2 linked regions of the Homo sapiens genome follow. The protein of the gene in region 2 purifies or fractionates together with the protein of the main gene of each other region. This does not show direct contact. Each region holds a gene or a part of one and is shown on either strand. Other genes may lie near its edges.

What was found.
Region 1: the proteins of RMDN1 (region 2) and EXOC6B fractionate together in Homo sapiens (co-fractionation; one large-scale study listed by BioGRID). This does not show direct contact.

The regions. Positions count from the first base shown.
Region 1 is NC_000002.12:72,815,945-72,819,772, forward strand, and holds part of EXOC6B (exocyst complex component 6B), read right to left. Parts: intron 1-3,828. UniProt on the Homo sapiens protein: Component of the exocyst complex involved in the docking of exocytic vesicles with fusion sites on the plasma membrane.
Region 2 is NC_000008.11:86,484,490-86,488,317, forward strand, and holds part of RMDN1 (regulator of microtubule dynamics protein 1), read right to left. Parts: intron 2,155-3,828; coding exon 1,995-2,154; intron 473-1,994; coding exon 383-472; intron 1-382.

The sequences.
Region 1 (3,828 bases), on a different chromosome or scaffold from region 2:
GGTCAGGAGCTCAAAACCAGCCTGGCCAATATGGTGAAATCCCTTCTCTACTAAAACTACAAAAATCAGCCGGGCGTGGTGATGGGCACCTGTAATCCCAGCTACTCGCCAGGGTGAGGCAGGAGAATCGCTTGAGCCCGGGAGGCGGAGGTTGCAGTAAGCAGAGATTGCGCCACTGCATTCCACTCTGGGAGACAGAGCAAGACTCCGTCTCAAAAACAAAACAAATAAAAAAAGAAATGTGCAATAAAAAATGACCAATATTCAAGGCTATCCCTTCCTGCATTATTTTTTCTGGCAAAAGGCTGGAAATAATCCAAATATCCAGAAACAGAACTAGTTTAATAAACCATGATATATTTACATAATGGAATACTATGTAGCTATTTAAAAAAAATAAGGAAAACCTCTATATACTGATATGGACAAATCTCAAAAATATATGTATAACTAAAAAACTAAGCTGCAGAAGTCTATACAATAACACTATTTATTTTGTAAAAAGGAGAAAATAAGATAATATATGCTCCTATTTGCATAAGAAAGCAATGGAAGAATAAACAACAAACGAATAAAATGGGGAAATAGAAGGAATGAGACAAAAAATGTTTGTTAGATCTATGATTCATATCCTTTTCTTTCCACTTTTTAAATAAAATATTTCAAACCCACACAAGATAATTTACCTATATCATTTTTTATTTTCAAAATTACAGTAGATAAGATTTCCAGGAGCTCAGGTTCCTCAGAATTACATATTTGATCTGATGATAACTAACAAACTCTTGAAATTTAATACAGGAATACTTAGCAAATGCTACACTCCCATTTAATTTCTCTCTATGGCTACTAATTTTTCTGTGGTGTGAATCTAATCAATCAGATAACAAATCAGCATAACCTCCACTGGAAGAGCTTCAATGAAAATTGTTGTCTATTTAACTCAAACAAAATCAAACACAGAGCCCATTGCTAGCTAACTGAACCAAATCAACATTGTCTTATTAGCCACAGATTCTTCATAATTTTTTCATTTTTCCAGTTTGCTTGATAACTCAATGAGGACATTTTTTAAAAACAAGTTTCTCTTTATCAAACCACAAAAAAATTTATTCTCCTATTCCATATTGTAATGAAACTTATTTAACATTATCCACCCCTTTTTACCCAAATGTACAATTTCAACTTTTTGCTAAATGTTAAGCTTTATTTATATAACATGCACTCAGATCATAATGCTTTCATCATTAGAGTTACTATTCTTAAACCTGCAAACTTTTGACAGCACTACAAAGAACACTGAGGAATGACAGGCTTTTTAAAAATTATTTTAGATTACACTTCTGACTGATGAAGAGAAAGAAGAACTATAAAGTTATATGTAGTTATAAAAAACATTTCTGATATGTAGAGGCTTTTGAAATTTTCATTAGTTTTATTTTCTCTCAAAAAGAAGTCATATTTTTAAGACAGTTAATCTGCAAATCAGTTAATTAATTCCCAGATAATTAACAGTTGGTGATACAATTTTTTAATTCTTCTATTCGTTCAACAAATATTTACTGAGCACCAACTATATGCCAGGCACCCTTTGGGTTCCCAGGATACAGCAGCAAACAAAAGAAACAAAATCCCTTCCCCCCTTGAACAGACATTCCAACAGGGTAGACAATCAAAAATAAAATGTCAGGCTGTAATAAGTTATTCAAAGAAAAGTAAAGTTCCTCCCTTTATTGTTCCCTATCCCAATAATTGGCATCACCATCATCTGATTGCTTAGGCCAAGAGCCTTGGAATCATCCTTGATCCTCTCTTTAATTCCCATAACTAATCCATCGTTTTGGCACTACCTTCAAAACATATTCTAAATCCAGCTACTTCTCATCACCTCCTCCCTATTACCATATTGCATGCCATAACCATCTCTTGCCTCTTATTACTGCAAACATCCCCTAACTGGTTTCCCTGTTTCCTCTCTTACTCTGTCTCCACACAGCAGCCAGAACATTCCTTGTTTGTTTGTTGTTGTTGTTGTCATTGTTTTTGAGACAGAGTCTCGCTCTGTCGCCCAGGCTGGAGTTCAGTGGTGCGATCTCCACTCACTGCAACCTCTACCTCCTGGGTTCAAGTGATTCTCCTGCCTTAGCCTCCTGAGTAGCTGGGATTACAGGTGCCCACCACCACGCCAGGCTAATTTTTGTTTTGTTTTCTTTTCTTTTGAGACGAGTCTCGCACTGTCTCCCAGGCTCGAGGGCAGTAGCGCGATCTCGGCTCACTGCAAGCTCCGCCTCCCAGGTTCACGCCATTCTCCTGCCTCAGCCTCCCAAGTAGCTGGGACTACAGGTGCCTGCCACCAGGCCCAGCTAATTTTTTTTTTTTTTTTTTTTTTTGTATTTTTAGTAGAAACGGGGTTTCACCATGTTAGCCAGGATGGTCTCGATCTCCTGACCTCGTGATCCGCCCGCCTCGGCCTCCCAAAGTTCTGGAATTACAGGCGTGAGCCACCGTGCCAGGCCATTTTTGTATTTTTAGTAGAGACACGGTTTCACCATGTTGGCCAGGCTGGTCTTGAACTCCTGGCCTCAAGTGATCTGCCCTCCTTGGCCTCCCAAAGTGCAGAGATTGCAAGCATGAGCCACTGTACCTGGCCACATTCCTTGTTTAATCTAAGTGACCACATGTCACTTTCCTGCTCAAAACTCTCCTGTACTTTCCCATAATGCTCAGAATAAAAACTCTCCTGTACCTTTCCATAACATTTAGAATAAAATCAAAGTCTCTTTCTTAGTCTACATGATCTGGACCCTGACTACTTTCTTACCACCACTTCCCACCGTTATCCTTTTCCTGAGGGCCTTGGCACTTACTGTCCCCTTTGTATGGAAGGTATTTCCCTCACAGAGAGCCATATGGCTTGTTGCTTCACTCTATTCAAACCTTTGCCAAAGCTACCTTTCCTAATCCCCTAATTGAAAGCAATAACCCAGTCATTATGTAACATTAATCGCTAAATAGCACTACATTATATATTTATTCATTTATTCTGTAAGTGCCCACTCCGGACTCTATAAGCTCAATAAGGATAGGGACTTGTCTATATTGCTGCCTGCTGTACCCCAGAGCCTGGAAGAGTATCTGGCACATAGACATTGCTCAATATTGAATGAATATATGAATGAATCAATTCATTAATAAAGCCACTAAAGTGACATCATTATAATGTATAAACCTGTATATAACATGTTAACTGAAAAAGCAAGACACATAATAATCATCTAATATTTAATATAATAACATGCATATAAAAAAGTTAAGAGGAAATATAAAAATATAAAAGTGGTGGAAAGGTAATAGAATTAAGTTATTTGTTGTTGTTTCTTCTTAAGTCATTCTATTACATTTATAATTAAAATATAAAAATGTCATTTTTAAAAGGGCACTACTATTAAAAAATAAGCATGAGCAATGGGAATGTTCTTCCCCTCAGTGATTGTCAAGGACGGAGTATATCACAATCACCTGAAGGGCTTTTATATATTTATTTCCTATCTCCTCCTCCTTTCTCTGCTCCACCCCAAAATAACCCCTCCCAGGATTGATTATTGATAAGTATTATATCCCTTAGATATGTGGGACCAGGAAAAGGAAACAAAAAAAATAGGCTAACCACTAAACTAACAAAACTCAAAAAATAGAAATACTTAAGTCCACATAGCAAACCCAAGGGTAAAGGTGGAAGATGACTCACACTTGAGTGACCAATGCCTAGCAGGTACCATGGCACCCCATCTACATTGGAGGAAGAGTATGAAAAGAAAAAAGAGAGAG
Region 2 (3,828 bases):
GGTGGATCACCTGATGTCAGGAGTTTGAGACCAGCCTGGCCAAAATGGTGAAACCACACCTCTACTAAAAACACAAAAATTAGCCAGATGTGGTGGTGTGCCCCTGTAATCCCAGCTACTCGGGAGGCTGAGGCAGGAAAATTGCTTGAACCCGGGAGGCGGAGGTTGTAGTGAGCTGAGATAGCACCATTGCACTCTAGCCCGGATGACAAGAGCGAAACTCCGTCTCAAAAAAAAAAAAAAAAAGAAATAACAAACTGTCATGGCTCTACTCCACTGTTATCATAGGTGGTTTGATATACAGCAATAGATAATGAAAACAAAAATCTATTCAGAAAAATATGACTTTTAAAATTCATGAATTTGAATAATTCATCAGTACCTCAAAATGCTCCTTGATGATATATGCATTTGCAATTTTAGCCTTGATGCCTTCATAATCTCCAACATCACTAAGGCAGATTGCATACCACTGAAAATTTAAAAAAGTGTAAGAACAATAATATTCTTAATATTCCATTCAATACAAGGTAAAACTGTATAATATTCTTCAATAGTCATTCTCATCCAACAAAAAGTTACTGAGCATAAAAACTGTATTAAATGTAATGGAATATATAAAGAGAAGTGGACATGGCCCTCTAGAAACTCAGGAATAGGGTTGGGCGCAGTGGCTCACGCCTGTAACAGTACTTTGGGAGGCCGAGGTGGATGGATCACCTGAGGTCAGGAGTTTGAGGCCCTGGCCAACATGGTGAAACCTTATCTCTACTAAAAATACAAAAATTAGCTGGGCATGGTAGCATGTGCCTGTAATCCCAGCTACTTGGGAGGCTGAGGCAGAAGAATCACTTGAACCCGGGAGATGGAGGTTGCAGTGAGCCAAGATCACACCACTGTACTCCAGCCTGGACAACAGAATGAGACTATGTCTAAAACAAAACAAAACAAAACAAAAAAACCTCAGGGATAGGACATGTTTATAGAGAACTATAATACAAGGTAGAAAGTGGTGAATTTTCCAAGAAAGTTACCAACACAATGAGATAATGGTTCATGTTTATGGTCTGAGTATCAATTTAGAAGAATATGTAATTGAATGTTTTATTTTCTCATTCTCTTTTCTTGGAGTTCCATCTACTCTCACATTGCATTGTTATAGTAAGAACAGCCACAATGTCAACTGTGACCTTGTCTCCACAGCCACAGTTGGACGGCAGACCCAAACTGAGATGACCTGAGTTTCTTTCCCAAGAAATGAATCTAAAATAGCCACACTTCAAAAACCCAGGTGCTGTGGAAAGTCACAAGACTTAGGATAAGGAGAAAAAAAATGTCTGCAATGAAAAAGATTTTCAGGTAACAGCAGAGTAGAGAAACAATTAATGAAGCCTCGGAGCAATCAAGCCAATTGTTTCCCAAGGTCCAACTTCACCCTGCCTTTGGGTTCTATGAAGTCCAACAATCCAGAAGGCTAATGACCACCTCGTCTCCCCGTACGATTTACTGAAAAACGTTGTTGTGAACCAACAAGAAATCCTGAAAGCAGCTAAGTTACATGTGAAAAGTCATTCTAGGTCTCAGTTGTCTAGCTGTTATATTCCTACCTCTAAATAAAACAGAAATATAACGTAAGGAAAATGAGAAAACATCTGTGAAGTGCTTATACTACTAAGAATATAGATATAGGTAATTCATGAAATTACTAAACTCCTGTTTAAAAATAAGCATTCACAAAAGTAATTTATCAAATACATATGAAGTTAGACCAAATGTTTACAAAAACAAAGACTTCTTTTTGAAAAACTTATAAAAATAACTATCTTCCCTACTTCTTTAAAATAGAGAAATTATCCTTAAGATATAAGATTGAATAAAAAGAAAAAAAAACTTAAAATAGAGAAATTGTTCTTCCAATGTAAATCAGAGATAATAGAAAAATATAGAAAATGTACCTCTCAGTACATGGTTAATAGCTTAGTTAAGCAACTCACCTTATGAGATGCAAAACTTGATTCATTTTTTTCTAGTGCTCTTTTTGCATACTCTAGGGCTTCATACACCAATAGCTTTTTCTCCTCTTCTGAGGTTCTGCTAAGCTGAGCTACATCACGTGATGCCCGTGCCAAACGCCACAGTAACTCTGCATCTTCACTAATTTGAAATAAAATATAAAACAACCATTTTAGCTCACATTTAAAAATTGTTAAGGGTTACATTACTAATGAATACATTATGGTCTTTCAGCTTAGGAAGCTAGCAACATGATATCAAAAGCCATTAGTAATAATGCTAAATTTATTATTTTCTTTAATATAAAACCTTTACTTGCTAAAATTTCCTATAAAAATGTCTAATATCCATAAATATTAACTTACCTCTAGTATCTAAAATACTTCTTTCAAAAATATCTTTGCATTCAAATTCTCTGAACATTTGCCCTACAAAACTCAACATATTAACTTGAGGTTTGGCCTCACTGGCACTGTGTTTCAAATAACTCACTCAGTAGTTCATACAGTATCATAAAATACATAAATTTTATAGACAGGGTCATGTTCTAAAAATACAAAACTGCTGAATCCCTAGTCTCAAATACAGCACCTGACACAAAATTGTTTTTGACAATTATTTGCTAATGAATGAATGGTTGAATATAATGTAATCTCAAAATAAATCCTATGTTTGAATACCATGCCATGATGCATGGGTTACTTCAAGTAAGAGCATTGGATTCTTTGAAGAACTGCCATTTCCATATAATGACATAAGAAATGGTTAATAAATTATTAACCACCACAACTGACAGAAATAATTGTAAAAATTAAATTCCGCCAGGCACAGTGGCTCACGCCTGTAATCCCAGGACTTTGGGAGGCCAAGGCGGGCAGATCACCTGAGGTCAGGAGTTCAAAACCAGCCTGATCAACATGTACTAAAAATACAAAATTAGCCGGGTGTGGTGGCACATGTCTGTAATCCCAGCTACTCGGGAGGCTGAGCCAGAAGAATCGCTTGAACCTGGAGGGTAGAGGTTGCAGTGAGCCAAGATTGCGCCATTGCACTCCAGCTTGGACAACAAGAGCAAAACTGTCTCAAAAAAATAAAATAAAATAAAATAAATAATAAATTCTTTTTTATTAAATGTTTGCCTTTAATCCTAACTTTATTTTTTTAACATAAAAAAAAATTTGAAGCTAAAGCTTCCTTTAATTAAGATAGTTATCATTCAATGAATATGGAGTAACTACCTTACAGCTTATTTTTCAAGTTATCAATGAAATGACAATAAAATGCCAAACCAGCCACCTTGAATTACTAAGGGAAGAATGGAGAAGAAAAGATCAATCCTGTAGATATTTAGAAAGTAAAATTGATGGGTCCTGGGGAGAAAACTGGTTTTGAAAATCTAAAAAAGGCAGATGAAAATGACTCAATATTTTTAGTTTAGGAGATGAGGTAGATTAGTGATCTAGAAATGCTATTTAGCCATATGACTTACTTCATAGGGTTGAGTCTTTCTCTCGCTCCACACTCCTCCCAAAAATGAGTACACACTGATATTCTACACTAAACATACAATCTAATAATAAAAATAGAAAAAGGGGGTATTTTTGGTTTCTCTGAAAGACTATCCTTCTAAAGTAATACACAGTTACCACTCAATGGTGGCATGCAACATCCTACATCTCAGTGAATTCATTTAATCTATACCAATAAAAAGTTACTTTAAAAGAAAAACAATGAGAAATATACAATATAGCTAGAAGGGATAAACATATATTCAATAACTATCTTGTATCATCTAAAGCAAAATGGAAAAATCAA